3 separate regions of the Homo sapiens genome follow, and all the other regions are linked to region 2. Evidence: fine-mapped expression QTL. A gene starts in region 2. Each other region holds a variant in brackets. All regions are shown on one strand. Distances are between the middles of the regions. Region 1 overlaps HM13 (histocompatibility minor 13). Region 2 holds the start of HM13 (histocompatibility minor 13). Region 3 holds the start of HM13-AS1 (HM13 antisense RNA 1).

The links. PIP is the estimated chance that this variant, and not a neighbour inherited with it, causes the effect.
Region 1: its variant is fine-mapped to the expression of HM13 in whole blood (GTEx, PIP above 0.99).
Region 3: its variant is fine-mapped to the expression of HM13 in whole blood (TOPMed, PIP above 0.99).

Annotation. Positions count from the first base shown.
Region 1 is chr20:31,553,153-31,563,418 of GRCh38, reverse strand. HM13 (histocompatibility minor 13) reads right to left here. Exons shown (of 13, transcript NM_178581.3): 8 at 8,590-8,673; 9 at 3,772-3,808; 10 at 1,683-1,785. Among named protein-coding and RNA genes, the nearest start is that of MCTS2, 11 kb to the right of the region's middle. RefSeq lists enhancers at 1,635-2,834, 8,170-8,669. The variant GAGA/A (reference allele first, on the strand shown) is at 4,867.
Region 2 is chr20:31,510,081-31,520,346 of GRCh38, reverse strand. It overlaps HM13 (histocompatibility minor 13), which reads right to left and starts at 5,905. Exons shown (of 13, transcript NM_178581.3): 1 at 5,613-5,905. The coding sequence starts at 5,795. It also overlaps the pseudogene CD24P3. RefSeq lists a silencer at 5,239-5,308.
Region 3 is chr20:31,564,267-31,574,532 of GRCh38, reverse strand. It overlaps HM13 (histocompatibility minor 13), which reads right to left. Exons shown (of 13, transcript NM_178581.3): 11 at 8,238-8,323; 12 at 6,309-6,455; 13 at 4,990-5,413. The coding sequence ends at 5,314. HM13-AS1 (HM13 antisense RNA 1) reads left to right here and starts at 1,270. Exons shown (of 3, transcript NR_046853.2): 1 at 1,270-1,391; 2 at 1,610-1,734; 3 at 6,585-6,946. LOC107985416 (a long non-coding RNA gene) reads right to left here and starts at 1,523. Exons shown (of 3, transcript XR_005647051.2): 1 at 1,095-1,523. RefSeq lists silencers at 991-1,570, 4,633-4,927 and enhancers at 1,372-1,913, 7,581-7,720, 6,994-7,869, 7,870-8,745. The variant A/C (reference allele first, on the strand shown) is at 5,432.

The DNA.
Region 1 (10,266 bases), 43 kb before region 2:
CCAGGAGGCGGAGCTCCAATGAGCTGAGATCACACCACTGCACAAAGGCAGAGGTGACCCTTACCTAGACCAATGCTAGCACTGGGACTACCTGTGTGTTGGAGAGCAGGGGACCCCATGGGACAGGGTCCCCTCATGTCCTGGATCCCCTTTCCAAGGATTTTCAGAGAGGTACCCACTTGGATGACTGGGGAGAAGGGCTGGGCTGCTGCTGGGGAGTAACACAGGCCTTGGGGCAGGGTTCAGGAGTTCATTAGTCTGGAGTCCAGATCGCCACCCAGGGCCCAGCCTGATGTAGTGTTCGCGTTCTCTCAGCGCTGCAGTTTTCCGATAAAGGAGAGGACTCCTGTGTGCCAGAGCTCTGAATGGGAGCCTCTTCTCAGTCCAGCCAGGCAGAGGGTGAGGCTGCCACCTTATGGCCACTGGGGGAATTGGCTCTGGGCTTGGACTCCAATAAGGGGCCGGGAGCTGCAGAGACCTCCAAAAGGTCTCTTAACTAGTCCTCCAAACCAGGTCCAGTCACTCTCTGTGACCCTTGCCATACGCATGTTACTCTCACCTTACACGCCATTGAAGCCCTTGAGCAGAAGTGAGAGGCAGTTCCACAATGGTTGTTCTTGGTTTTTCTAATTATGGGCTAGGGGCCTTTTGACCTTCTATAAAGTAATACTGTACTAGGACTAAATGAGTTATTAGCAAAAGAGTTTAGCACAGTGCCTGGCACAGAGTGATTAAAAAAACCCCAGCTTTTGTGATTAATTCAAAGATGGCTCGTCTGTATTTGGGCCCTGGGGAAGGGGAAAGGGGACAGAAGCAGCAAGCCCAGAGTTCCATGGTTACTGGGTGGTGCTGGGATTCACAACAGGGCTCCCTTAGCCCCTGTTCAATGCTGCGTTTCCCATGGCCAGGGCTTGAGAGCCTGGGTGTGGTTTCCATGCTGACCCAGGTTTGAATCCTGGCTTTACCACATACTTGCAGTGTGTCACCTGAACTCCAGTTTCCCCACCTGTTCACAAGGATCCTCATGAGTGCAGAGCCTGACATGTGGAAGTGCTTAACAAACAGGAGCTCTTATTATTTCCAGTAGAAAGTAGGGCAATCCTGTCTGCTCACTTTCCCCTGAATCTTCCCCTCTCCAGGCCACACTGAGGGCTCCCAGTCTTTGTGCTATGTTGCTTCATTCTGTGGCAGCTCAGTACTCCATCCTCATCTTGGTGGGAGAAGGAGGCAGAGCCTGGTCTACTAGGGAGTAGGGGGAGGGACGCCCCAATACCCAACACCCACTCCAATCCTGTTCTTCTCTGCCTGCTTCCCACTACCAAGGCTGAGAAGCCAAATCCTCTTTCCTGGACTCTCCTGTAGCCAGGGTGGCTTTAGGACCCCAGTCTGGCCCATGAGATGCTGAAAGGGTTCTGGGAAAGTTCCTGCCTTCCTGATGAAGGCAGCAGGCATGGCTGTTACGCTTTTCCCTCCTTCTTGCCTCTAACGTGCCCATGCTGCCTAGAGCAGTGGCAGCCATCTTGCAACCACAAATGGAAGGCCAAGAGAATCACAGACATGACTGCTCCAACACCAGTGGGGAGTGCCTATCTCTGGACTGCTTGCATTTACAAATAAATCCCTCTGTAAGTCCCTCTATTTGCAGTGAGGCATTCCTGACACTCTGATACCGTCCTGCCCACCTGAGCATGCTTGAAGATGTGCATGATGAAGATGGTAAGGCCCAGGCCGAAGATGTAGGCTGCAAAGCTGGTGTAGAAGTAGGTGTGGGTATTCTTCTTCAAGCTGCAGGGAAGGTGTGAAGAAAGAGGAGGAGGGTTAGATATAGGGACTGAACTAGTAATACCCCTTCTGAGGGAGCTGGGGAAGACCCTAGAGGTTGTGGGGGGGTGACTGAGCTCTGGGCTGGGAGTCTGGAGGTGGGTGTGCACGCTGATACTGCCCCCAGCTATGTGTCTCTGGACAAGTTGCTTTCCTTCTCTTAGCCTCAGTTTACTCATCTGCAAAATGGGAAAATGAGCTCATCTCCTTGGTAGTTATGAATATCAAATGCTGCAACTTATAACAGTGGCTGTAAGACTTTAGTCAGCATAAAAATCATCTGGAAAGCTTGTGAAAAAATGCAGGATTCTAGGTCCCACCCCCAGGGAGTCTGATCTAATAGCTCTAGAGCAGGGCCCAGGAATCTGCATTTTGAAAAAAACATCTGAGGTGAATCTCATACCGTTGGATCATGCTTTGAGAAACACAGATACAGAAACTGCAAAGATAAGTTACTACTTTTAAGTGCAGTGGACGTAATAGTTCAATAGCCTATTTGTGGTACTAACTAGATGCTGGCTGCATGAATAAATGCCAGTGGCTTCCTGGAGGTGATTCATCCAAGATCAGCTTCAGAACAGATGAATCATATACAGCCCGGCATTGCCATTACGTGACTTCCCTCTCCAATGCCAGCTCCGTAACCTCTGCATGTCCCCAGCACCTGGGATGTGCCCAGCCAGTACTATGGACTCAATTAACATTTGTGGAATGAATGAGTGCTTCTGACCCCCTTCTCTCCTTGTCCTGGGTGCTTCTAAGCCTTCGGCTGCAAGTACCTTGAGAACTCACCTATCTTGAGAACTGGGATACAAGTGACTCCCTTTGGGAATGTTGCACTGATTCTGGAAATCAGCTGAGGAGCTGCTTATGCTGTGAGCCCAGGCTAAAAAATGAGACTCTGTCTCTGAGGGTGCTGGCAGTTGAATCTGTCTCCAGCAAATAGCCTGGGGGCTTCTTATGGGTTTCACTTTGTATTACCTCTGAACAGCCAGGAGTAGAGACGGCTGGCACAGACATCCCTCTACTTACAGACTGGCCAGGTCTCTTCCAAAGGTGACTGTGAGCCCATATGCTCCTAAGGTTTGAAGTGGCACTACACAAATAACCCAGGTGTATGTGAGTGGGAAAAACCTAAGTTTCACATGGAAACTGGATTTCAATGATGCTGGTAGTAAGTTTCTCATTACCACTGTCACTGTTATTACTGCTTTTGCAACTATCAGGCATGAGGAAATCAAGAGAAGTTCACAAACCACCTCAAAGTTAAGTGCAACATTGCCAGCCCTCACAGGGATGACGGGGCATAAAATGATGGAGCTGTTGCTGGCGCCCCCTGCTGACGGCAAGTCCCATTGCATAGGTGCATTAACTTGGATAAGACCTTTCTTGTGTTTTAAACGCTGACCTAAGTTGCCCACCTTCTCCCCCTCGTGCTCACTGTCTACAACAGACTGAAAAATGTCTGAGTAAAGAGAGGGCAGGGAACAGCTAGAGCAGCTGAGACATGGTGACCTGACGCTAGGCTGATAAAAGATGATGATGATGACTGCAACCAGGATTCAACCAAGAGCGACTGAGGTCAGTGTGTGCTCAGCACTCTCTCCAGATTTTCATGGTAGGAACTCTTGTTATTAACTCAAGATGAGAAACCAGAGGCTCAGGAAGGTCAGGCCACTTGTCAAGGTCACACAGTGAGAAAGCACTGTGAGTACCACCAGGCCCTTGTGGGTTTAAATCTCTTGGCCTATGATTCTTAAAACAATTTTTTGACCACAGGCTCTTCAAATACTTAGAACTTCAAGATGCAAAATGCAGATAAAATCAGAATTGCTCTGGCTGCTGTGGGGGTGGAGGGTCTGGTCTCCTGAGGTACCTTCTCTGGGCTCCTGAAGGCCACTGGAGAATCCCTGGAGAAGCCCATGCTGGGGCAGGCCCTCACTCACTCACCTGATGTCAAAGCGCAGCAGCAAGGCAATGAAGATCCCTGTGGGAGAAAGCTGGGGTTAGAGAGTGGCAGGGAAGCAGCAGGGCAGTGAACTAACAGGAGACTGGGTCCTGGTCCCCAACCTGGTGTTCCATCTTGGAGCAATCATTGGAGACCAAGGGTGTGGCCAATACTCTCAAGTGACAGCAGAAAGTCCCATTTCTCTACCTAGAACAATGAGAGGGGCCCAGGATTTTGCTTTGGCCTGGGACTACAATGACCCAGCACCTCACCGCATCATACTATGTCACACCGTGTCTGCCCAAATGCTTATCAAGTGCCTATGTACCAGGCACTATGGGAAATGTAGGAGTAGGCAAAATCGCTGCTCCCACAGAGCTCAGCCAGGGGGACAGGGTAGCCACACTATGACATACCTCAAATAGTCACGGAAATCATTGTGAGATTGTGACTGTTAAAGAGTGCTTCCACTTTGGAAGGCAGAGGTGGGTGGATCACGAGGTCAGGAGTTCCAGACCATCCTGGCCAACATGGCGAAACCTCGTCTCACTAAAAATACAAAAATTAGCCAGACATAGTGGCATGTGCCCGTAGTCCCAGCTACTCGGGAGGCTGAGGCACAAGAATCACTTGAACCCAGGAAGTGGAGGTTGCAGTGAGCCAAGATCGCGCCACTGCATTCCAGCCTGGTGACACAGCGAGACTCTGTCTCAAAAAAACAAAACAAAACAAAACAACAACAAAAAACAAAAGCAAAAATTAGCCAGACGTGGTGGCAGGCACCTGTAGTCCCAGCTACTCGGGAGGCTGAGGCAGGAGAATCGCTTGAACCCAGGAGGCAGAGGTTGCAGTGAGCCGAGATCACGCCACTGCACTCCAGCCTGGACGACAGAGTGAGACTCTGTCTCAAAATACAAAAAACCCCAAAATGAGCTGGGCATGGCAGTGCACGCCTGCAATTCTAGCTATTGGGAGGCTGAGGCAGGAGAATTGTGCTTCCCATGTTGTAAGAAGGTGTAACAGGATGAGACCTAGGCTGGGCAGGGGTGAAGGAGGGGAAAGAAGGAAGGCTTCTTGGAAATGCCACACGCCAGGAG[GAGA/A]GAACAGCATGTGCAAAGGTCCTGGAGAAAGAGTGCTCAGGAGATGTGGCAGGGACTGAGGGGTCACTAAGGCAGCTTGCCTACTGGCAGGAGATGAGGAGATAGACCAGCCCTGCAGGGCCCCGAGGACCATGGGGAGGAGTTGGGTCTTTATCCTGAGTGAAGAGACGCACTGGAGGAGTTCTGAGCAGAACAACCTAAACACATTTTGAAAAAGGCCCCTGTGGCAGTGCGTGGCTGGAGGGGGGAGGAGGAGGGGCAAGCAGTGGGCTATTTGAAGGCTCCACAGGAGCACAGGAGAGGGTTACCTCGGTCCACCCACTGCACTCTGAAACTTGAAAACCAAGCCAATTGTAAGCAATGGTTCTGCTAAAAAAGAAAAAAGAAAAAGAAAGAGACATCCCGGAAGCCTAAGCAACCCCAAAACACAGCCAACCAGTCCTGTCCCTGTGCTATACGCACACCCTGTGTGTCGCCTCCCTTACTGGGCTCTGGGCTCTGAGTCTCATTTACTTGAAGGAAGGCGCTGAGAAGCACTGCCTGGCCGGGTGCGGTGGCTCACGCCTGCAATCCCAGCACTTTGGGAGGCCGAGGCAGGCGGATCACCTGAGGTCAGGAGTTCCAAGACCAGCCTGACTAAAATGGTGCAACCCCGTCTCTACTAAAAATACAAAATTAGCTGGGTATGGTGGCACATGCCTGTAATCCCAGCTACTTGGGAGGTTGAGGCAGGAGAATCACTTGAACCTGGGAGGTGGAGGTTGCAGTGAGCTTAGATTGTGCCATTGCACTGCCTGGGCAACAAGAGCAAAACTCCATCTCAAAAAAAAAAAAAAAAAAAAAAAAGAAGCACTGCCTGTCAACTGTCAACATATGATTAATTTTAAAGAGGGAAATGAATTAGTTCTCAATGAATACTCTGTAGGAGTAGGGAGTTGGTTGGGGATAGAGCAGACAACTGCAGTTATTCTGGAATCAAGCTGGGAACTCAGTGCCCCCTGGCGGCTGATTTCTACGAGTGTTCTCCAACTAATCCAGGGGTCAGAGCTCTGCCAGGGATTTTCACTCCTAAAGTGCATCTGGCCTTCCAAACAACGCTCCACTGTGATCAACTTACATTTATTGTGATTGCGGGACTACTGGGGATATATATAGAGGGTGGGGAAAGGACAGATATGCCGAGATGTCCTGTGCCTGTCTCAAGCCTGGAACTTATGACAAGGACACAGGGGAAGTTTGTGTGGGTGAATGACAGACCGTGCCCTTAAGAGTGAGCCAGATGCTTTACAGGACTCCATTTCTTTTGTCTGACAGAGATGCCTTCTACTGGGGAAGCAAGTCTCCCTGCCTCACAGCACTGCAAATTATGAAGACACATGGGTGCAAGCCCATACCCTCGTGGCCTCAGGCAAGTCAAACCTCAGTTTCCTTATCTGTAAAATGGAAATGCCCTCTATCTCACTGGACTGCTGGGAGAAGTAAAGATGACATATAAAAAGTACCTAGCACCATTCTTTTTTTTTTTTTTTTTGAGATGGAGTCTGGCTGTGTGGCCCAGGCTGGAGTGCAGTGGTGCAATCTTGGCTCACTGCAAGCTCCACCTCCCGGGTTCATGCCATTCTCCTGCCTCAGCCTCCCGAGTAGCTGGGACTACACGCGCCCGCCACTACGCCTGGCTAATTTTTGTATTTTTAGTAGAGACGGGGTTTCACCATGTTAGCCAGGATGGTCTCGATCTCCTGACCTCATGATCCACCCGCCTCAGCCTCCCAAAGTGCTGGGATTACAGGCTTAAGCCACCGTGCCCGGCCGGCCACCTAGCACCATTCTTGGTACACGACAGGTGCTTGATAAATGGTAGCTGTTGTGATTACCGTCTTATTACTGCTAGTGCTGCTGTAAGGAGCAGTTCTGACAGCGTAGCCTTTTTTGCAGTTGGACAGTGCTGGTCTGAGTCCTGGCCCTGTTGCTTACTAGTGTGTGAATTTGTATCATTCCCTTTACTTCTGAGCTTCAGTTTCCTCACTGGTAAAACAGGGAAAGCCTCTGTGTCACCTCCATGTGTCACAAAATGCAACTGTCACAAATAGAAGTGCCTGTATCACCCTAGGTGATCAGAATTGCTATAATATCCTACCCTGGAAAGTAAGTCAGCCTTTAATCTGCTGCTTTAAAATAATTCCTCTTCTTTTAAAAAATATAGACGGGGTCGGCCAGGCGTGGTGGCTCATGCCTGTAATCTCAGCACTTTGTGGGGGCCGAGGTAGGTGGATCACCTGAGGTCGGGAGTTTGAGACCAGCCTGACCAACATGAAGAAACTCCATCTCTACTAAATATACAAAATCAGCCGGGCGTGGTGGTGCATGCCTATAATCCCAGCTACTTGGGAGGCTGAGGCAGGAGAATCGAGAATCGCTTGAACCAGGGAGGCAGAGGTTGCAGTGAGCCGAGATCGCGTTATTGCACTCCAGCCTGGGCAAGAGCAAAACTCCGTCTCAAAAAAAAAAAAAAAGGAGAAATAATAATTTTATATATATATATGGTCTCACAATTTGCCCAGGCCAGACCTCCTTCTTTAAGAGACAGGGTCTCACTCTGTCACCCAAGCTGAAGTGCAGTGGCACAATCATAGCTCACTGCAGCCTTGAACTCCTGGGCTCAAACGATCCTCCTACCTCAGCCTCCAGAGTAGCTGGGACTACAGGCATGAGCCACCACGACTGGCTAATTTTTTTTTTTTTTTGTAGAGATGAGGTCTTGCTATGTTGTCCAGACTGGTCTTGAACTCCTGGCATCAAGTGATCTTCCCCACGCAGCTTCCCAAAGTGTTGGAATTACAGGTGTGAGCCACTGTGCCCAGCTAAAACCTTCTTTTAAGCAAGCTTCTAACCCTCTCACTCTGAGGCTAGGAAGACAAGTATGTCCCTTGGGTTCACTGCCCCCACAACTGGGCCCAGATAAGCAGACACACCCGAGCCTCAGCCACTTCAGCAGCTCAGCTTTGCCCTTAGTCTCTTTCCTGACTGGTAGTTTGAGCTGCTCCTGCCCCAAAGTGAGGCCAGGCTGTGGTTGCGCAGGATGTGCTATCCTGCTTGGATTGTGGACAGGGCCCGTGTCCATACCCACAGACACACTGACTAGAACCCACACGCAGATCCAGGGGCTCAAAGGCCAGCCTCTGCAGATAAGCAGGTGTGCACGCACATGCTCCTCTGCTGAGAGTGCAGACAGGAGCCCATGTGTGTGTTCTCCCTGGAGATGTCTTGGCACAGGGAGGAGGAGCAAGGGGGCTAGGGCAATTCTGGTACATCTGTGATGCTTGCAGATGCTGGGAAGGGGTATGTGTATGTGTGGGTGTGTGTGACAGGGGTCCAGTCTGTTAAGATTGTCATGAAACGTGCTTTTTCAGAGTGTACCTCAATCTGTCATTAGACTTTTACTTTTGTAGTTCTTGAGCAACATCTGCTCACCTAGACCAGAGGCTCTGTGAAGACAGTCTTGTTCACTGACACCTGACCAGGACCCAGCTTGGGGCATGGCACCTGACTGGCCCTCCGTAAACGGATGTTAAGGGGGAACCCTTCACCAATCCCTGGCCTGATCCAGCCTTACCTTTTCTCTTTCTCAGCTGGTAAGCCTGTCTGTTTAGCAGTAATCCCCTTGCTCCGGGGAATACCCTCTCCACCCCTTTCACATAGCCCCCACACCAGCAGGCTCACCTGGAATGACGACATCTCCAAGTCCCAGCATGGCAAAGTTGTTTGCTTCGAGGCCTTTCTCCAGCAGATCCTGGGGAAACACCACTGAAGCGGGAGGCGGGAATGTGAGGAGTCAGCTGGAGCCCAGTTTACATTTTTTTTTTTTTTTGAGACGGAGTCTCGCACTGTCACCCAGGCTGGAGTGCAGTGGCGCAATCTCGGCTCACTGCAAGCTCCATCTCCTGGGTTCATGCCATTCTCCCGCCTCAGCCTCCCAAGTAGCTGGAACTACAGGCGCCCACCACCGCACCCAGCTAATTTTTTGTATTTTTAGTAGAGACGGGGTTTCACCGTGTTAGCCAGGATGGTCTTGATCTCCTGACCTCGTGATCCTCCCGCCTCGACCTCCCAAAGTGCTGGAGTTACAGGCGTGAGCCACCGCTCCCGGCCTACTTTGTATTTTTTTTTTTTTTGAGACGGGGCTTGCTCTATTGCCCAGGGCAATGAGGACTGTAATCGGGAGTGCAGTGGCACGATCTTGGCTCACTGCAACCTCTGTCTCCTAGGCTCAAGTGATTCTCCTGCCTCCTGAGTAGCTGGGATTTTAGACGCCCGCCCCATTTTTGTATTCCCAGCTTACTTTGACTCCTAACCCCCCATTCTTGTTGTATGAAACTCACACATTTGTTTCTGGGTGGGATGTGGGGGATGGGGACGTGAGAGGATGCAGGGCAATGTCTCCATCTGGAGTCACAGCTGGTTAGAGTGGGGAGGAATAGGGTCATCTAGGCTGAAGATTTAATGCCTTTACTGAGCTATAACTCAAATAACCATACAATTTCAACGCCTTTTTATAGCTATTGAACCCTTTGGTTAAATGGGATTGACCCTAAAGCCCAGTATATAAAAGAAAAGAGCCACACAGTGCCAACATCTACAAGGTTTCCCATCTCACTATAACAGGGGTATGGACAGATGTTGGCCCTTGTTCTGAAGCAGGGTGAGCCCGGGCTATAAGCTCCTTCTGTATTTGCTGAGGGAGAAAAGGCTACACACCCGCAGATTGCTTCCTTAAAGCCCCTCACTCAGAAATCTTGCTGGACAGCTTGTCTGGATAAATACAGATTAGGGAGAAACGCCTCCCTCTGTGTCTAGTTATAGCAAAAGGAGGTTATAACTGGATTTCATCCATAGGGCCTTGCAAGCAGAAGAGCAGTTATAAGTGGGCCTTAGAGGCTGACTTGTGGGTCTGTAGGTCTGAATCCTAGTTCTGTGCTCTGCACAGGTTACTTACCTGCCTTAGTTTTGTCACCTGTGAAACGGGTAGACAACAGAACTGACCCCTCAGGGTGATAGTGAAGATTAGATGATTTGTACACAGTTAACTGCTACCTCATGCCTTCTTTACTAATCCAGTCCTGGTTTTGTGTTAGGCAGCCTTCCCAGGTGATAAGTGTGGTGCAAGACTAAGCCAATCAGGAAAATCCTGTTCCTTGAATTCCTTACTTGCAGGTAGGGGGTCAGCTCTGGCCAACATTTTTTTTTTTTTTTTTTTGAGATGGAGTCTCGCTCTGTTGCCCAGGCTGGAGTCCAGTGGCGCAATATCGGCTCACTGCAACCTCTGCCTCCCGGGTTCAAGTGATTCTCCTGCCTCAGCCCCCTGAGTAGCTGAAATTACAGGCATGCGCCACCATGCCT
Region 2 (10,266 bases):
GGCCAAAGAGTGAGACTCTAACAAATGAACAAACAAACAAACAAAAACAACAACAAAAAAACAAAACCTCTGGAGAACAGACTACTCCACAGCCATTAAACAAGAATTGAGGTCATTGCTGGTGGGAAAGTAAACTGATACAACCTCTATAGTGGATCATATGGTAAAATCTATCTAAATAAAAAGTGTGGGCTGGGAACAGTGGCTCACGCCTGTAATCCCAGCACTTTAGGAGGCCAAGGCGGGCAGATCACCTGAGGTCAGGAGTTTGAGACCAGCCTGGCCAACATGGTAAAACCCCATCTGTATGAAAAACATAAAAATTAGCCAGGTGTGGTGGGTGCGCGCCTGTAATCCTGTAATCCCAGCTACTCAAGAGGCTGAGGTGGGAGAATTGCTTGAACCCAGGAGGCAGAGGTTGCAGTGAGCTGAGATGGCACCACCGCACTCACACTCAGCCTGGGCAACAGAGCGAGACTGTCTCAAAAAAAAAAAAAAAAAAAGTGTGCATAGCCTTCGACCCACCAATTTTGAGAAATTTATCCCACAAATACACAGACAAGTGTGAAATAAAAATGTATAATGTTATTAATTTCAGCATGGTTTGTAATAGCAAAAGACTGAAACAACCTAAATGACCAGTTGGGGACTCAAATTCTCAAATTTGAGCATGCATCAGAATCACCAGGTGGGCTTGTTAAAACACACATTGCTGGGCCCACCTTGAGCTTCTGATTCAGAATGTGCATTTCTAACAAGTTCTGGGGTGATGCTGACACTGCTGGCCCAGGGACCAGATACTAGAGAACTAGCATTCTAAGCAAACTGGAGTACAAGTGGGATACCATACAGCTGTTAAAGAACACACCCACCCCCTATGTACTGACATGATTGGATCTGCAACACACATTAGGTGAAAAAAGCAAGGTGCAAGGAAGAGTGTACTGGCCAGGCGTGGTGGCTCACGCCTGTAATCCCAGCACTTTGGGAGGCCAAGGCGGGTGGATCACCTGAGGTCAGGAGTTCAGGACCAGCCTGGACAACCTGGTGAAACCCCATCTCTGCAAAAATACAAAAATTAGCCAGGCATGATGGCAGGTGCCTGCAATCCCAGCTACTCGGGAGGCTGAGGCAGAAGAATCGCTTGAACCCAAGAGATGGAGCGTGCAGTGAGCTGAGGTTATGCCATTGCACTCCAGCCTGGGTGACAGAGTGAGACTCGGTCTCATTAAAACAACAACAAAAAAAATCAGGGAAAAGTATATGCCTATTTATTTGTAAAGACACAGAATCTTTCTGGATGGATATCTAAGAAACACAGGAGAGGGGCTGCCTCTGAGGAGGGAAATAGGGCAGCTTGGGGTAGCAGGGAGACTTTCACTGTGCACCCCTTTGTACCTTTTGAATTCTGTACCATGGGCATGTATTACCTACCCTCCCCACCATAAAAGATGAGGTAGATCTCTCTCTCTCTCTCTCTATATATATATGTATATATTTTTTGAGACAGGGTCTCACTGTTGCCCAGTGGTGCAATCAGGGCTCACTGCAGCCTTGAACTCCTGGGCTCAAGTTATCCTCTCGCCTCAACCTCCAGAGTAGCTAGGACTACAGGTGCATGCCATCATGTCTGGTTAACTTTAGGTCTATATGTACTGACATAGAAAAATAATGAAACATATTATTATTATTATTATTTTTGAGATGGAGTCTCACTCTGTCGACCAGGCTGGAGTGCAGTGGCATGATCTCGGCTCATTGCAACCTGTGCCTCCCGGGTTCAAGCGATTCTTGTGCCTCAGCCTCCCGAGTAGCTGGGATTACAGGCGTGCCCCACCACACAAAGCTAATTTTTGTATTTTTAGTAGAGATGGGGCTTCACCATGTTGGCCAGGCTGGTCTTGAACTCCTGACTTCAAGTGATCCACCTGCCTCGGCCTCCCAAAAGTGCTGGGATTACAGGCATGAGCCACTGTGCCTGGCCAACATATTGTTAAAGAAAAAAAAAAAATTGCTGGGCGCGGTGGCTCATGCCTGTAGTCCCAGCACTTTGGGAGGCCGAGGAGGGTGGATCACCTGAGGTCGGGAGTTTGAGACCAGCCTGACCAACATGGAGAAATCCCGTCTCTACTAAAAATACAAAATTAGCCAGGCGTGGTGGTGCCAGCCTGTAATCCCAGCTACATGGGAGGCTGAGGCAGGAGAATTGCTTGAACCTGGGAGGCAGAAGTTGCAATGAGCCAAGATCACGCCATTGCACTCCAGCCCGGGCAACAAGAGTGAAACTCCATCTCAAAAAAAAAAAAAAATCAAGTTGTAGAGAAATATGTACTATATAATCCAATTTTTATAAAAATAAATTTACATGTCTATATACACAGACACATATACAATGAATGTGTAAACACAGAAAAAACTCTCAAAGGTTATATACTCAACAGCCAGTTGGGTTACTTCCAAGGAATAGTGCCCAGGAGGCTTTTCCTTTATACTTCTGCACTGCTTGATTTTTTTTTTTTTTAACAAGTGTATAGTATTTTTGTAACAATACGATTAACCGCTGCATTGCTTTCAGGATTCTCTTCCCCAGAAAGGCCACGGGCTTCCTGAACATCTTGTCACTACATCCAAGCCCCTCTCCTGGGCTCACACCACACTCTTCACTGCCTCCCTGAACACATCTTGTGGTCCCCTGCCCCACCTTCTCCTGCTCTGCCTGTTGGACTCTCCCAATCCATGCAGAGACAACTGCTGCCCCCTCCAGGAGGCCTATCAGAGCTCTATTTACTTGACTAGTCACATGTCTGTTTCTCCTTGGTGACTGGGCTCAGTGAGGGCAGGGCTTGGCCTTCTTTGTCCCGGAACTCCTGGTACCCAGCCCAGAGCCTAGCCCACAGCAGGCACCCAGTCCTGTTCGCTGAGGGCCCTTTAAACCAATGTTTAATGTGCAGCTACTGCCTGGGTCATATTCGCTTCTGTCTGGGATATAGGACTCTGACAGTGATGGGTGCTGCTCTGAGACTGCTCCTCCCAAGGCTACTTCTTCACAACATACTCCTGGAGGCTCTACCTTCTTTCTCTCCATGATTTCACAATTTTCCCTGCCTGTTATGGACACCTTGACCCTTGGGGATTCTGTCCTCACATTCCCTCTCTCCCAACTGGTTTTGGGGTCCAACACTGGTGGGAAATCAAAACTGGGTCCCCACACTAACTCTTCTCTCTCCTTTTCACATGACCAGGGAAACGACTCAGGGTAGAAGGGGAGTCATTTGCCCTGTCCTTTCCCTAGGTCAATGCTGCTTGTCTTTAAAGGTACCTGTGTTAGGAGAGAGCCCTGGATGAGGACTAGGCATACCTGATTCTGCCCCTAAATGGCAGAGTGATCTTCAGAAGTCATTTCTTTGACTCTCAGTTTCTTTTCCTGTACAATGAGGATAATGAAACTGGCTCTGCCTGCCACCTCAGTTGCTGTGAGCATCAAAGGGCGTCAAGGTTTTGCAAGCTTTACCGCATCTGGGTCATTGGTGGTGGCAGGCTCTTAATGGTCAGGTCCTGTTTGTAAATTCATACAGTCCTCCACACCCTGCTGCCCTGCAGGAGATGCTTGGGAGAGGTATTCAGAGGCTAAGGCTTTCTCCTATCCATACCCTCTGTTCCAGCCACACCAAACCTTCCACTATTTCCTGAACTGCCTCGTAGCCTCCTGCCTCCGTACCTCTCTCTGCTTACCTGGTTTCTTTTGCTTAGAATGCCTTCTCCTGGCTGAAATTCTACCTCTACGTCAAGGCTCAGGCCTACCTCTAGCACAAAGCCTCCCTGCATTGTCCCAGATGTGCTCAATCTTTCTCCCTAAACCTTGTAGCATTGCTTGTAGTATAATCACAATCTAGTTATTATTCTTTCACCTACGCTCCCGAATTCCTTGGTGACAGGGCTCTGACCTACTCATCTTTGCAGCAATCCTCCCTTACCCCTGACAGTGGTGGAAGTTCAGGAAATACTGTTGCCTGGAAGGTGTTTTCTGCAGAGATTAGTGATCCATGTACAGAAGGTGCCAGGGAGAATTACTCAGTTTGGAGAGCAGCTCAGATCAAGCTGCCTAGCCTTATGCCAGCTGTCCTTCGCCTCCTCTGTCCTGGGTTATCTCAGAACTGCTCTCTACACTAAGTGTCTACCTGACAGGCATAGTAGAGAGGCTTAATATCACCTGAACTCAGCTTAGAAAAAGCCAAATAAAAAGGAAAATGGAGTCATGTTTGAGTCTCTCAGCCTAAGCCCCGCCTAACTACTTTCCTTTGCATCTGATCGCATACAGAGCCAGTAGTGAGTTCTCTGCTCCTGGGGAAGGAAGATGGCAGGCCTCAGCTACTGCTCAAGTTGGGTAGTGTTTTGAGAACCTCAGCTTCAGCAGTTTCAAAAGTGGCAGCTGCTTTGTGGGCCTGCCCTCTTTGGGCAAGACTTCCACTTAGGTCCATCCTCAGGTCTGGGTGGGGGAGGAGCATCGGGAAGGTGCAGATTAAGAGGTTGTGGAGGAAGGGAGAGGGTGCCAGGAAGTGAAAAGTCATTGGTACAACGGGCTAGAAAGGGCTTAATATAGGGAAGAAGTGGGGCAGGGAAGGGGGAGGGAGAAGCAGAAGGTGAAATGTGCTGGAGTCCTCCTAGTTATCCAATAGGACAGATGTTGAGGAAGGCCAGGGATGGAGTCTGGCCCAGTCTCACAAGAGGGGCCAACAGTGGCCCAGCAGACAGGCCCAGTTTGGTGGGGGGATTGTCTTGGGGGTATGGGGAGAAGGGCTACTTTGAGATAGGGTCAAAGGCTGGGTGGGAAAAGGGTTACAGGTTAGGAACAAGGTCTAGGTTTTGACTAGGCCATGTCCAAGGTTGGATGGTAGTTAAGAGAGGAAACCAGGAAAATAAGACGTCCATGCCTAGTTGGAAAGTAGAGGCACCAAGATGCCAGCTTCTGAGGAGCCAGCTGACTGGGATGGTTCCAGAAAGTGATGTGAAAAACTGGGCTCTAAGAGATCATTGTTTTTGAGGCAGGGGCAAGGGCCAGGTGTGGGGGATCTAGGTGAGCACATAAGGTGCCATAGATTCCAGTGAGACAGGAGTCAGAGTCTAGGGATGGGTCTGGATGGTAGAAAGGGCCCTGCGGTGGGCTGAGGCAGGGTTCCTAACAGGGAATGACACGAAATTGTACCATTCAGTAAGTTGTGAGGACCAGTATCCATCAGGTATACATGATGGGGCTGATCTGCCTGGGCCCAACAGGCTCAGAACAATCAGTGCCCGAGTCGCAGTGGGGGACGGGCTGACAGCGTTCCCAGCCGCGGCATGATGCACAGGGAGGGAAGTGTCAGGGTCCGGGTCGGGAGCAGAAGCAAGTTCCTATTGGGGAAGGTATCATACCCTGGTCGGGGGTCGGTGCCCAGATCCCGGGGTAGGAAATGCCAGCCCCGGAATGTGGGCCCGAGACAGAGGGAACGGTGGTGATCAGGGCTGGGAAGAGTCAGTGTCCGGGGAGAGGTGTCTGTCCCGCCTAGGAAGGGTCCATGTCGGCCGTGTTCGGTATGGGGGTGGAAAGTGCCCGGTTTTCCCGCTGACCCTACCTTGCCGCGGGCGCAGCGTACGGAGCGCAGGGCGCCGAAGAAGATGGGCAGCAGCGCCATGAGCAGGAGGCTGCCGTAGGCCAGCGCGATGCCCTCGGGCGTGGAAGGCGGCCGCGTAGTGCTGTTGGTGGGGCCGCCTGCCTCGGCACTGCCGTTATGCGGATCGCTGAGGGCCGAGTCCATGGCGAGGGTGCGTTCGGGATCCGACTCCAGCTCCGGTTGCTGCAGCAGGGACGCAGGCGGAGACACCGGCTCTGCAGGGAAAGCCACGTTCCCCTAAGGCAACAGGAAGTGACGTGCTCCCTCCCAAGCCCGCGCCGCGCACGCGCGCACACACGCTTGCACGCACGCGCGCGCGCGTGCACGTCTCCCCGCCCGCTCGCCCTCTAGCGGTGGCCGAGGGCCGGGCGGCGGGTTGCTAAGCAACTTGTTAGCGGTCCGGACAGGGGCTCTGGGCCACTGCGGTGGGCATGCGACCCGAATGCCCATTTCCCAGTCCCAGCCGGTCTCCTCAATCCCCTGCTGTCCACTCTCCGCAAATCCTCATATTCCGAATAACTAAGAATGTGTTTATTCATACATGCATTTATTGGGTATCCAATTGTTTATTCACTCCTTAAATATTTATTGAATGTCCCTCAATATGCCAACAACTGACCTAGGCTCTGGGGACACTGAGGTGAACAATACAGGCAAAAGTTCCTCCTTGCCTTCGTGAAGTTTGCATTTTAGTGCAGTGTGTGTGGGGGGACGTTGGGAAGACAATAAAGAAACTGAACAAAATAAAAGTCTGTAAAATGGGCTGGGCGCAGTGGCTCACGCCTGTAATCCCAGCACTCTAGGAGGCCGAGGCGGGTGGATCACCTGACGTCACGAGTTCGAGACCAGCCTGACCAATATGGTGAAACCCCGTCTGCACTAAAAATACAAACAATTAGCCGGGCGTGGTGGCACGCACCTGTAATCCCAGCTACTCGGGAGGCTGAGGCAGGAGAATCGCCTGAACCCGGGAGGCGGAGGTTGCAGTGAGCCAAGACTGAGCCATTGCACTCCAGCCTGGGCAACAAGAGCGAAACTCCGTCTGAAAAAAAAAAAAAAAAAAAAAAAAAAAAAGGCCAGGCGCGGTGGCTCACGCCTGTAATCCCAGCACTTTGGGAGGCCGAGGTGGGCAGATTGCGAGGTCAGGAGATCGAGACCATCCTGGCTAACACGGTGAAACCCCGTCTGTACTAAAAATATAAAAAATTAGCCGGGCGTGGTGGCGGGCGCCTACAATCCCAGCTACTTGGGAGGCTGAGGCAGGAGACTGGCTTGAACCTGGGAGGCGGAGGTTGCAGTGAGCCCACTGCACTCCAGCCTGGGCGACAGAGTGAGACTCTGTCTCAAAAAAAAAAAAAAAAAAAACAAGAAAAATTTGTAATTTGTAAAACGTTAATGTATAGTTATGTGTTACATAGCATGTTAATGCAGATAAATAGAGAAAAATAAAGCAAAAGAAAGTAAGGTGTGTGTGGAGTTTGCAAATGTATTGAGAGCCTACTATGTGCCAGGCAATTATAATACCTTACGAGTTCATGCCCCTGTACAATTTATAAAGCTTTGTGGCTCTTTTCAGAATTTGAAGAATCTGTTTATTTATGTGATTCTTATTTTTGATATTGTTAAAAAAGTTAAAAATATATATTTTCTTAGACATGGGGTTTTGCCATGTTGGCCAGGCTGGTCTCAAACTCCTAGGTTCAAGTGATCCTCCTGCCTCAGCCTCCTAAAGTGTTGGGATTACAGGTATGAGCCACTGCTTGCAGCCTACTGTGGCTATATTAGATACTGGAACATCTAAGCATCACTGTGTGACTGTGCAAACAAAAAACTTCAAGGAGGGCCTATTATTATTATTATTATTATTATTATTTTGAGACAGGGTCTCACTCTGTCACCCAGGCTGGAGTGCAGTGGCATGATCACAGCTCACTGCAGCCTCTACCTTCTGGGCTTGGGTGATTCTCCCACCTCAGCCTCCCCAGTAGCTGGGACCACAGGTGTGTGCCACCACGCCCGGCTAACTTTTTGTGTTTTTAGTAGAGATGGGGTTTCGGCATGTTGCCCAGGCTGGTCTCAAACTCCTGGGCTCAAGCAATCTGCCCACTTCGGCCTCCCAAAGTTCTGCAATTATAGGCATGAGCTGCCACCTCCCGCAAGAGTGCCTATTTTATTTTATTTTATTTATTTTTTATTTTTTTTTTTGAGATGGAGTCTTGCTATGTCACCCAGGCTGGAGTGCAGTGGCACGATTTCGGCTCACTGCAACCTCCAGCTTCCGGGTTCACGCCATTCTCCTGCCTCAGCCTCCCGAGTAGCTAGGACTACACGCACCCGCCACCACGCTCGGCTAATTTTTGGTATTTTTAGTAGAGTCAGGGTTTCACCGTGTTAGCCAGGATGGTCTCGATCTCCTGACCTCGTGATCCGCCCGCCTCGGCCTCCCAAAGTGCTGGGATTACAGGCATGAGCCACCGCGCCCGGCCAAGAGTGCCTATTTTAAAAAAGATTTCTATGTGTTGAGGCAGTTGTTTACTGCAGAATTAAGCCCACTTTAGGCTTACTACCAGCTTCTATCTAAAAATATTGACTGATAACCGAAAGTGTTCTAAAGGTGGTTATTCTGATCTATAGTTTTTTTGTTTGTTGTGAGACTGAGTTTTGCTCTTTTTGCTCAGGCTGGAGTGCAATGGCGCAATCTCGGCTCACCACAACCTCTGCCTCCCTGGTTCAAGCGATTCTCCTGCCTCAGCCTCCCGAGTAGCTGGGATTACAGGCATGCGTCACCACGCCCAGTTAATTTTGTATTTTCAGTAGAGATGGGGTTTCTCCATGTTGGTCAGGCTGGTCTCGAACGCCTGACCTCAGTGATCCACTCGCCTCGGCCTCCCAAAGTGCTAGGATTACAGGCGTGAACCACTGCGCCTAGCCTCTGATCTATAGTTTTTTAAAAAAGTATTTACAGAAAGTATAGAAGTTTTTGTGAATTTAATACAAGTTAGCCTCCAATTTTCTCTTCTCAAATGTTTGATTTATAGTTTTTGCTCCTTTACATATTTGCTTTTTTAATTTCAAGATTTGTAATTTTACCTTCAAAACAGTTCATTTTTAAAATTGTAAAGCATGTTTAACATACGCAGAAATAGGCTGGGTATGGTGGTTCACGCCTGTAATCCCAGCATGCTGGGAGGCCGAGGTGGGTGGATCGTGTGAGCCCAGGAGTTAGAGACCAGCCCGGGCAACATAGCAAGACCACATCTAAAAAATAAATAAATAAATAAAAAAAAGTCAGTATTTTGAAATTATTTGAGCTCAATGCAGTTCTACTCTTTGGAAGCAGATTAGCTAACTGAATCTGGTGCTCTTGTTGAATAGAAATAGGTGATGGGAAATGTCTATCATTTGACTTTATAAGGATAAGCAAGATTTACCATGATGCTTTGATTTGGGGGTGGATTCCAGTCCATCATTGCCCTGGCACATGTCAATTAGTACACACAAAATTCAATGTCAAATCCAGAGCCTCAGAGGAAAAAATTTATTCCCCAAGAGAACAATGATAACATAACAAAGTAAAATGTTATCTAGATTATATTGGTATTAAAATTATCTCTTATATAAAGTATATTGACTGTAACTATACATAGAAGATTCATAGTAACACCTGGAAGTTCCTTCTCATGTTATATATAAATTGAATTATGAAAGCTTTTTATATTACCTGTTTATGGCCTTATAGATTTAATGTACCAAATGAAAACTTCCCACTCTACCTCTAGATAAGATAAAATCTATATTTATTTTCAAGGTAGAGTTTTAAGTGGCCATATTTCTTAAGCCGTATTCAAAGGAAAATTTTATTTCAAGGCACATTTTCACTCTGTCACCCAGGCTGGAACACAATGGCATGATCACAGCTCACTGCAGCCTTGACCTCCTGGGCTCAAGCGACCCTCCCACTTCAGCCTCCCGAGTAGCTGGGACTATAGGCATATACCACCATGCCCAGCTAATTTTTCCATTTTTTATAGAGATGGGGTTTCACCATGTTGCCCAGGCTGGTCTTGAATTCCTGGGCTCAAGCGATCTGCTCACCTTGGCCTCCCAAAGTGCTGGGATTACAGGCATGACTACCATGCCTGGCCACTCAAGGAAATTGTGTCTTAACTAAGTTTGAATGCTGTTCCTCTTCATTTTGTATATGAAACTTCAGCTGATTTAATATTGACATTCATCATCTAGTCAAACCCTTCACATGTTCTTCAAACCAACCAAATTTGGGGTTCTTGACATTTTCTGTGTCAATAAAATTAGATGTGGATCTTATCTTTTTTTTTGAGATGGCGTTTTGTTCTGTCACCCAGGCTGGAGTGCAGTAGTGTGATCTTGGCTCACTGCAACCTCTGTGTCCCGGGCTCAAGCAATTTTCCTGCCTCAGCCTCCTGAGTAGCTGGGACAACAGGCACCCGCCATCACGCCCGGCTAATTTTTGTGTTTTTAGTAGAGATGGGGTTTCACCATGTTGGTCAGGCTGGTCTCAAACTCCTGACCTCGTGATCTGCCCGTCTCGGCCTTCCAAAGTGCTGGGATTACAGGCGTGAGCCACCACGCCCAA
Region 3 (10,266 bases), 54 kb before region 2:
AAGTGAGCAGGGTGTGGTAGCACGCACCTGTAGTCCTAACTACTCAGGAGGCTGAAGTGGGAGGATGGCTTGAGTGCAGGAGTTCAAGGTTACAGTGAGCTATGACTGCCACACTGCACTCCAGCCTGGACTACAGTGAGAGCCTGTCTCAAAAACCAACAAGCAAAATACCCACCCACACACAGCTTAGTTTACATATATAGCAAAAATCTTCTTCCAAGCCACCTAACTCCTTTGTATATTCCTTGCCCTCAAATTTACTCAAAATAGTATCTCCCTTTTTTTAATATTTTGGAGACTCTTCCATAAATATCTATTGAGAACACACTATGTGTGATTTCCATGTATTTATTTATTTTACTTAATCCTCACAGCCATTATGTAGACGAGGAAAGTGAAGCTCAGAGATGGGAAGTCACTTGCCTGAAGCCGCAGGTTGGTAAACATTAGACTCTAGGTAATTTGATAATTTGTGTCCATTTATGAAGTGCCTGCTGTAGCCAGGCCCTCAGGATTGTCCCAAACCTTTATAGTCACTCTTACAACAAATACTGAGTGCCTTCATGTTTCAGGCAATGGGCCAAGTGTTGGGGCTACGGTGGAGAGGAAAACAAAGGCTTAGCCCATGGTTGAGGGAGGTTCAATTGTTCACCCCATTTTTCAGGTAAGAAAACCAAGGAAGAGAAGGGAAAGAAAGTGTCCTGAGATCACACGGTCACACGAAAATAGCTGAGGCACGGCGCGGTGGCTCACGCCTCTAATCCCAGCACTTTGGGAGGCCGAGGTGGGAAGATTGCTTGAGCCTGAGTTCGAGACCAGCCTGAGCAAGAGTGAGAACCGCCGTTTCAACTAGGGGAAAAAAAAAAAAGCCAGGCGTGGTGGGACACACCTATATTCCCACCTGAGGTGGGAGGATCGCTTGAGCCCAGGAGGTCGAGGTTGCAGTGGGCCGTGATCGCGCCACTGCACTTCAGCCTGGGCGACAGAGTGAAACCCTGCTGCACAAATAAAAGAGAAAAGGGAAAAAGAGCGGAGACAGGCAGCCCCGCTTTACAGGTAGGGAAAGTGAGGCACAGAGAAGTAAAACGACCTACCCAAGGAAACCCATCTAGTAAAGGCAGGGACCGGGATCGCAGGCTCTTGGAGCTCACCAGTCCCCGCCGGGCGGTGCTTGGCCCCTCCTTCCCCTCCGGCGGGCGTGGCCCGGCCGGGCCCGCCCCCTCCCCTGCGCGCGTTCCTGGCAGCCCGGCCGGCGTTTCCTGCCTGCGTCGCTGAGCTGGCGGGCGGGCAGCCCATCTGGCGGCCCCCGCGGGGCGGCGCGGGGAGGCGGCCCAGACTTGCTGGAGCCAGGCGCCGGCCCGGGGGCCCCCCTGCCCGCCTGGAGAACCCAGGTGTGGCCGCGGCGGGGGTGGGGGGTGGTGCTTTCCTTCCCGCTCGCTCGGCCCTTCCTGACGCACCAGGGCAGGATGCAGCCTCCTCCCGTCCTCTCCTCGGCCTCCGCCTCCCGCGCCCTGGCCCGGAATGCTGGAGGGAATCCAAACGCAGGGCGGGGAGGCAGGGGCAGGCCCCTGAGGCCCCGCCCCTGATAGCCATTTGATACCACCGCTAGTCTTGCCCGTGTTTGGGGTGACTCAGCTTCCCTGCTTGTGCAAGAACAGCTGAACTCTGACCTCCTGAATGGCCGACTCTTGCCTTGCTCCTCAGGGACCCCAGACACGATCGTAGGAACCGGAGGTACTACTGCCCTAAGCCATAGCGCTTGACATTATCCATTTATTCAGCAGTTTCAAGTCGCGGCAAGCGGCGTTTGACCACTTCTGTTCCCTGCCCAGTGCTTAACTGGTACCTGGTGCCGGCCTGATGGAGGCTCTGAAGGCTTTCCCTCAGAAAGCTGGACCCGCCCTGGGAAGCAGGTCCTAACCCCCCTTCACAGTCGAGCACAAGACCGCTTCATTCACACTGCAGGAGCCAGCCCTGCTGTCAGACTGACGGTGCCAAACCCCCTTCTCCAATGCTGCCCCCAAAAGGAACCAGGGATCCATTATCCTGATCATGTCAAACGGCACCACGGTGAATACGAGTCTTGGAAGCCAGACACTCTGGGTTCACATGCCCCCTGGGCCCGCCCTTACGGTCTCTGCCTCAGTTTCCCCATCGTAAGAATGATGTAGGTACCTCAAAGTGTTGTTACAACGATTAAGTAAATCTTAAGATACATTTGAAACTTGAACACGGGTTTCAATTGTGCAGGTGCACTTAAACGTGGACTTTTTTTCTACCTCTGCCACCCCTGAGACACCAAGACCAACCCCCTCCTCTTCCTCAACACAGAGACCAGGATGAAGATCTTTATTTATGATGATCCACTTTCACTGAATAATTTTTTTTTTTTTGAGACGGAGTCTCACTCTGTCCCCCAGGCTGGAGTGCGGTGGTGCAATCTTGGCTCACTGCAACCTCCGCCTCTTGGGTTCAAGTGATTCTCCCACCTCAGCCTCCTGAGTAGCTGGGACTACAGTCGCCTGCCACCATGCCAGGCTAATTTTTGTATTTTTAGTAGAGTCGGGGTTTCACCATATTGGCCAGGCTGGTCTCGAACTCCTGACTTTGTGATCCGCCTGCCTCTCTCGGCTTACTGCAAGCTCTGCCTCCCGGGTTCAGGCCATTCTCCTGCCTCAGCCTCCCGAGTAGCTGAGACTACAGGCGCCTGCCATCATGCCCGGCTAATTTTTTGTATTTTTAGTAGAAACGGGGGTTTCACCATGTTAGCCAGGATGGTCTCGATCTCCTGACCTCCTGATCTGCCCATCTTGGCCTCCCAAAATGCTGGGATTACAGGCATGAGCCACCATGCCTGGCTCTTAGGATTTTCTTAATTACATTTTCTCTAGCTTACTCTATGGTAGACAGTGTAGTACGTATAACATACAAGATGTTTTGACTGTTTATGTTATCAGGTAAGGCTTCTGGTCAACAGCAGACTATTAGTTGTTTTGCGGGACTGAAAAGTTATACAGATTTTCGACCATGATGGGTTGGTGCCCCTAATCCCTGTGTTGTTCAAGGGTCAGTTGCACTAGCATAATGCTAGTCACGTGAAATACAGTCAGTGCACACTGGGGTCTCAGCAGGGCTGGTTTTCCCCTTGGAACCCTCTCTCTTGTCGCAGTCATGGGAGACTGAGGCACAGAAACAGAATCTAATAAAGCAGGGTAGAACTTGGGTTCTAGAGCAGTTTCCTAATAATCCACCCCAAACCAGGTGAGGCTGGCATCTAGCCCACTCGGGGCCCTGCCCAACCACCCACACCCCCTCCCCAGCATGCAGGCCCAATCCTTGCCCGGCCTGGTGCCATTTTTCCATGGGACTCTGATGGTGGCGGTTCACATCTGGAGTCTAGACTCGCAGGCTCTGCGGGCCAGGCCTACCGCCTGGGCTGGGCCACCACTGCCCGCTGTTTGCTCAGCTGAAGCTGGTTAATTGGAATTACAGTGGCCTCTGCGGTGCCGGCTGGCCGGGCGGGCCCTAGTCCGCTGCTCCGGAGGTCTGTGGAACATCTGGCTGGACCAGGACAGTCATTAGGTGGCAGGCGCTCGGCGCCACTGCCACCTCAGCCTCTGCCGGGGGCTGGTGGTGACTCAATAAGGCCTTTGTGCGCCCTGGGCCGCAGAGCCAACCATGCTATGTGCCTGGGCCGCCTGCCCCATCTGCCTCAGAGGGGCCTTGTTCCAGGACCACATGGCCTCAGAGTTGGCTGGAGTGGGTAGAGATTCCAGAAGCCCCTGAAAGGGAACCCCCCTCCCTGAAAGGAAGAAGCCTTTTGAAATTTTCTACCCCTTTTCCTTCCTATAGAACCCTGGAGCCAGTAAAATTGGGTGGCTGGGGCTCAGGGATGCCCAGCACACCAGCCAGTGACTTGGTCCCAGGGGTCTGGGGAGGAGCTGCGGTCCTTAGGAACCTGGAATTGTTTGGCTTGGCTAAGGTCAAATCGATGTCCATGGGCAAGCTGCCTCAATTCCCTCATCTGCACAGCGGAGCGAATAATAGCACATACAGCCCAAGACTCAGAAGGAAGTGAAATCCTATATCAAGGTGCTTAGTGCATGTCAATACCTAGTGAGGGTATTACAGTCATACTCCTGAGTCTCTGGTCATGATTGTCCTTTGGCCACTTCCAAACTGGAAGCCACTGTTATTTTCAGCCTTTGAACCTGAAGCTTGGGCAAGGGAGAGCCCCGGGTCTGTCAGTATGGTGGCCACCCGCTCCTGTCTGTTTCCCCACTCAGTGACCTCATACCAGGTGGGTGGATGAGGGTTGTGGCCACCGTTTGCCTGGTTTGGGGTGGTGCCCGGTCGGTCTCCTGCTGGCCGGGGCTGCTGTCTTCAGCAAACTTTAGGGAAACCCGGGCGCTGAGATTTCAGCTCTTAGGCCCCAGAAGGCCTCTAAGAATCACTAGCTCAGTCCTTCCCCACCCCAGCCTCTAGAGGTCCTGGCCCTTGTGCCATGACTGGCCCCACAGTAGTCATTTTGGGAAGAAACCCAGGAATGGGCAGAATGGGAGACAAAGCCTTGATCTTCAGGGCAACCTAGAGTCTGAGCCCTCATCAGCCGAAGCCATATGGGCACAGGGACCAGGGAGGCTGGCAGGTTCTACAGTTACTGCTTCCCTTGTGAGTCAGGTCAGCCCTGGGTACTCCCCACCACTCTCACCATGGTGAGTGGGAGACTCTCATCTGCCAACACCCTTGCTGCCCCCAAGTATTTCGAGGAAGGTGGTGAGAAAAGTGCTAGCTGGTGAGAGAGGGCTCGTGGGCCCCCTCTACTGGCTAAAAGGTGTTTTACGGGTGCAGGGCTGGCCAGGCACTGGGGTGGGCACCCTTAAGGGGCTTGCAGAAAAGATTTTGGGTGGGCAGGTGAGACCTAGAAAACCCAGGGCAAGACACTGGGTGCTTAAACAGAGAATCTTCCAGGAGCACAGTGGCCCGCCCTGGCCATGGGATGAGTTTTTAATGTGAGGCAAAATCAGTCCACAATACAAAATCTAAAAATCACACCCACTTTTCCCACCTGGCTCCCGGGGAGGGGGGAAGCTGGGGGTTTCTTTTGCCTGCAGGGTGTGGGGAGGAGCAGAGGAGGGCCAAGAAAGGGAGAAGGAAACAGAGGCCACAGAGGCCTGGCTGGAGGTATCCTGCTGCCCCCTGCCCTGTCCTGGAGCTGCCCTTGGCCTCCTGTGCCCTCTACCGGTGCACGCCTGTGTGGGCCCAGCCCCCATCTGTCTGGTCTGGCCCTGAGAGGCTCGGGCACCAGCTGCATCATTTCTCTTTCTTCTCCAGCCCCTTCGATGCTGATGCCTCTGTTCCCTCTTTGGATTCTGTCACTGCCGCTGGATCCTTAGGATTTGACTCCTCATAACTGACCAAAAAAAAAAAA[A/C]CAACAATAAAAATTCATTTAGAGGAGAGGGTGAGCAGAACCTTGGTTGTCCCCTTCCCCCACCCCCATCCTAGGAAAGCGCCTGGTCACATGCAGAGCGTCAGCCCTGTGTCCACTGCCCAGCACCTAACAGCGCCTGGCCCCAGCCCTACCACATGCCCTCCTCAGGCAGGCTGCTCTGCTTTCTCTGAGCCTGGGGGTACCAGGAGGCAGCAAGGGCAGCAGCCAATGGAAGAGAGGTTGGGCCTGGGCTTGTGTGGGCTGATTTCAAGCTTCCTGAACCTTCTGCTGTAGCGTGGAAAAAGGGGTGGCCATGACAAGGCTACAAGAGATGGAGATAGGCTGCCTCCCAGGGCACACAGCATGAATCAAACAGCTCAGCCCCAGAGGTGAGGGCACTGCTGTACTGGCAAGCGGCAAGGTGCTGCTCTGAAGACAGACACCCTGGCTTAGCTTCTTCTATGGGCTTCATTTTTCAAGCAACTGAGTTCATGCCAAAGATAATACAAATCTTTCCTCACCAGATAAACCCCGTGAGGCAGGAATGTGCCCACTTACAGATGAAGAAAGTAACTTGCCTAAGGTTATACATATACCTTGAATGGTAACAGTATCTACTACTGCATGACAAGGGCCATTTCCATCCACTATGATGTGGGCCCCGCATTACTGGTGAGGGCAGGAAGCTTCGGGGTTGTCCTGCTTCCCAGCCCTATGGCTCGGTGCAACCACTGCCTGGTGGTTGTGGAGGAGCTGCTCTTGCGGCCTACTCCTGGCAATGGTCCCTGCCCTATGCACTGGAGCTGCAGTGTCTGCCCTACCTTGGGCCCCGGGGCAGTAGGGGGAAGCGGGCAGGTGGGCACCCGCTGGGCATTACATGGCGCTGGGATTCTGCGGGCGCCGGCGGCGAGGGCCAGCTAGCTTCTGCTGCATGGAGTCGGCCAGGCTGGCTGGGGAGCCCGAGACTGTGGGGAAGTGGGTGAGCCTCGGGGTATGAGGCAGGATTTCCGCCGAGGACTCGTAGCTGTGTGAGAGAGAGAGAAGAGACAGAAAAAAAGAGATGGATAGGGAAAGACTAAGGGAGGACAGAGACTTCCTTTCCAAGGAGCAGAGAGCAGAACTGTCTTGTTTTTACCTATTTTTGCACTTCCAGATTTTATGGAAAGAAGCTGATATTATTTGGAGAATGAAAAAAGAAAGATGCACCTAGACAAAGGCACATCAGGCCACTGTGCAGAAGAACAAGCATGCTCTAGAAGTGTATGTGCTGCTGTGGAAACACCTCTAAGAAATACCGTAGAAACCCAATGTGCAGAATGCTCCAAGAATGCCACCGTCTGTGCAAGAAAAAGTATACACACATCAGTGCACAGGTGTCTGAATGTCTGTGTAACACTGCTGGCCTCTGTGGGGTAGCTGGAGCATGAGGGTGCTCTCTCTGTTACAGCTTTGGAATTTTTAACTATGTGAATGTGGTACCAATATAAAAATAAGTAAATCAATAAAAAAAGGAGGAGAATAGAAGGGAAAAGTAAAAAGGTGGAGAATTGGGAGAGAAATGGGGAGAAAGGAGGGAGAGAGAGAGAGAGAGAGATCACTTGCTTTTTACCCCAATCTAAGAATGTCCAGGGTGGGAGTGGAGGGCAAACAGTGGGGGCAGGGTACCTGTATGGCAGAGCATTTAGCACCAAGCAGGTAAAGGCCAGGGGCACCCTCTGCCTTGTGTATTCAGAGCTTTGCCTGATGAGGGCACAATAGCATTGGGTGGTTACCCCAAGGGGAGGGGCAGGGAAACCTGGGCTGGATGGGAAGCAGAGGGAGGGTGAAGGATGGGTGCTAAGCTCAGGGATCGGGTGCCATGCCTGCTCCCAAAGCTCCCTGAGACCTGTCCCCAAGTTCACCCCTAGCCCCCACTTGCCTCAGACCACAGAGCTTTGCTGGGCGAGGCAATGTGGGCAGGCAGGCGGGGGGCTGGGGATTCTAGACAGGACAGGGAGGGCAGAGGCAGGTCCGGGGGAGGGGTGAGTCACAGGCTCCCCTGCGGGGAGCCAGGTGCACAGGAGGCCCTGGCAAGCGCTCTAGGGACAGCTTGGAGGCCAGGCAGGTGGAACTGGGCGGAAGGCACCCGAGTAGGCAGCTTTAATCGCAACTGACAGCTATTTCTAGGTCCCTGGCAGGCAGGGTCGGCAGTGCTGGGGGCAGACACCTGTTGGAGTCACGCAGGCCTTGCGGTATGGGTGGGGCTGTGTGCAGGGTGTGGTAGGTGTGGATATGGCCCTGGGGAAGGGGTATCTGTGTGAGATACAGATATAGAGAAAGCAGTGAGCTGTGGGTTAAAGCCACAGAGGTGAATGAACAGGGACTGACACCTGCCTTCTACTCGGGGCACTTTCTACCACACTAGGGCATCCCACACGCCCCCTGTTCTATTACTCACATGTGAAAACTGAGGCCATGGGAGGGGAAGACATGCCTGAAGTCACCTGGGGGCAGAGTCACCTAGGACTTCTGACAGTAGGCAGAGAAAAATCCACAACAGCTATTCTTAAGATCCAGCTAACATTTGGATGGGGGATGCCTAGAGGGCTCTGATGCCTTGCGCTCCCCTGGCTCCTGGCCCAGGGTAAGGTTCCCACTGGTGTCCACAGGCCAGGTACCCATGTACTGCTGAAAAAGGCAAGGGGTGGGGCTGGTGGCAGGAACAATGTTCCCCTGGAGAGGTGTAAAGATACCCCCAGCAGGTTCCACTGACTGCCAGCAGGCACACTGGTGCCCATGAGGACATCTGCCCCCCACTCTGCCTTACCTGAACATCTCTGTCACTTCTCCCTTGGCCAGCGCCACCAGGACAGGAAAACCGATGCAGGCGGGGACCAGGTATAGGAGGGCAGGCTATGAGAGGACACAGGCTGGTGAAGCCATGCTGGGCACGGCACTGCCTCAGGGCCGTGCCCAGCACCCCAAACCCCTTCTGGGCTGGACTGAAGGACAGTGACTGGTCCAGGACCATAGCAAGTCAGTGGCTGGGCCTGAACCCAGGGCTCCTAACTCCCAGACAAGGGTTGCTCCTCCCGAGAGGGAATGCAAGAAAACTAAGAAACTCAAGTAGGCAGGGCTTCAAGGGTTCCCAGGGGTTTGGCTGGCAGCATCTGAATCACCTAGGTCACCAGGTTCAAAAAGCAACTTCCTGGTTTGGTCCTACTCCCAGAGACTCTGCTTCCTGAGGTCTGGGGCTCACACCTGCATTTTAGCAAATGCTCCAGGAGATGCTATTATAGTGATGATGACACCACAGCTGCTATGTAATAACTACTTGTTGCAGCCTGTATTAAGGTGACCTAGCTGGTCACTGGCTCCCCCAGGATTCACACCCAAGCAATTTGGCATGTCTGTGCTGAGACTCCTGGTAAAGCTGGGTTTGGAGAAAAGGACGGTTATACTAAGACCCTGTTCATGAACATCTACTGTGCAGGCACTGAGCTTAGCCTTCCCAGGAAGTCAGCCCACTGCCACATCCCATGATGGTTATCCTTTTGCAGAGGAGGAAGACCAATGCTTCACAAGGAGAGGGAAAATAGCCCAGGACTCAGAGACCCAAATCTTTTTTTTTTTTTTTTTTTGAGACAGAGTCTCTGACTCTTGTTGCCCAGGCTGGAGTGCAATGGTGCAATCTTGGCTCACTGCAACCTCCGCCTCCAGGGTTCAAGCGATTCTCCTGCCTCAGCCTCCTGAGTAGCTGGGACTACAGGTGCCTGCCACCACGCCTGGCTAATTTTTGTATTTTTACTAGAGATGGGGTTTCACCACGTTCGCCATGGTGGTCTCGAACTCCTGACCTCAGGTGATCCACCTGCCTCGGCCTCCCAAATTGCTGGGATTATAGGCCTGAGGCACCACGCCCAGCCCAAAGAGTTTCTTTCTTTTTTTTTTTTTTTTGAGATGGAGTCTGGCTCTGTCACCCAGGCTGGAGTGCAGTGGTGTGATCTTGGCTCACTGCAAGCTCTGCCTCCCAGGTTCACACCATTCTTCTGCCTTAGCCTCCGGAGTAGCTGGGACTACAGGTGCCTGCCACCATGCCCGGCTAATTTTTTTGTATTTTTAGTAGAGACAGGGTTTCACCGTGTTGGCCAGGATGGTCTCGATCTCTTGACCTTGTGATCTGCCTGCCTTGGCCTCCCAAAGTGCTGGGATTACAAGCGTGAGACACCGCGCCTGGCCGAGTTTCTTTTCTTTTCTTTTTTTTTTTTTTTGTGATTTTGAGATAGAGTCTTGCTCTGTCTCCCAGACTGGAGTGCAATGGTGCGATCTTGGCTCATTGCAACCTCCGCCTCCTGAGTAACTGGGATTACAGGCATGCGCCACCATGCCCGGCTAATATTTGTATTTTTCAGTAGAGATGCGGTTTCACCATGTTGGCCAGGCTGGTGCACTTGAGTTCTTTCACATGGAGTCAGGTCCCTTGCTACGTGCTCTGTAAGTCCCTCTAATTTCCCTCACAGCATTCCTCAGCAATTTTTTTTTTTTTGAGACAGGGTCTCACTTTGTCTCCCAGACGGAAGTGCAGTGATATGAACATGGCTCACTGTAGCCTTGACCTCCTGGGCTCAAGTGATCCTCTCGCCTCAGTCCTACAAGTTGCTGGGCCTACAGGTGTGCGCCTCCATGCCTGGCTAATTTTTGTATTTTTTGTAGAGACTGGTTGTCACCATTTTCCCCAGGCTGGTCTTGAACTCCTGAGCTCAAGTGATCCACCTGCTTTTGCCTCCCAACGTGCTGGGATTATGGGTGTGAGCCATCGTGCCTGGCCTCCCCAGCAATTTGTAATGGAACATCCC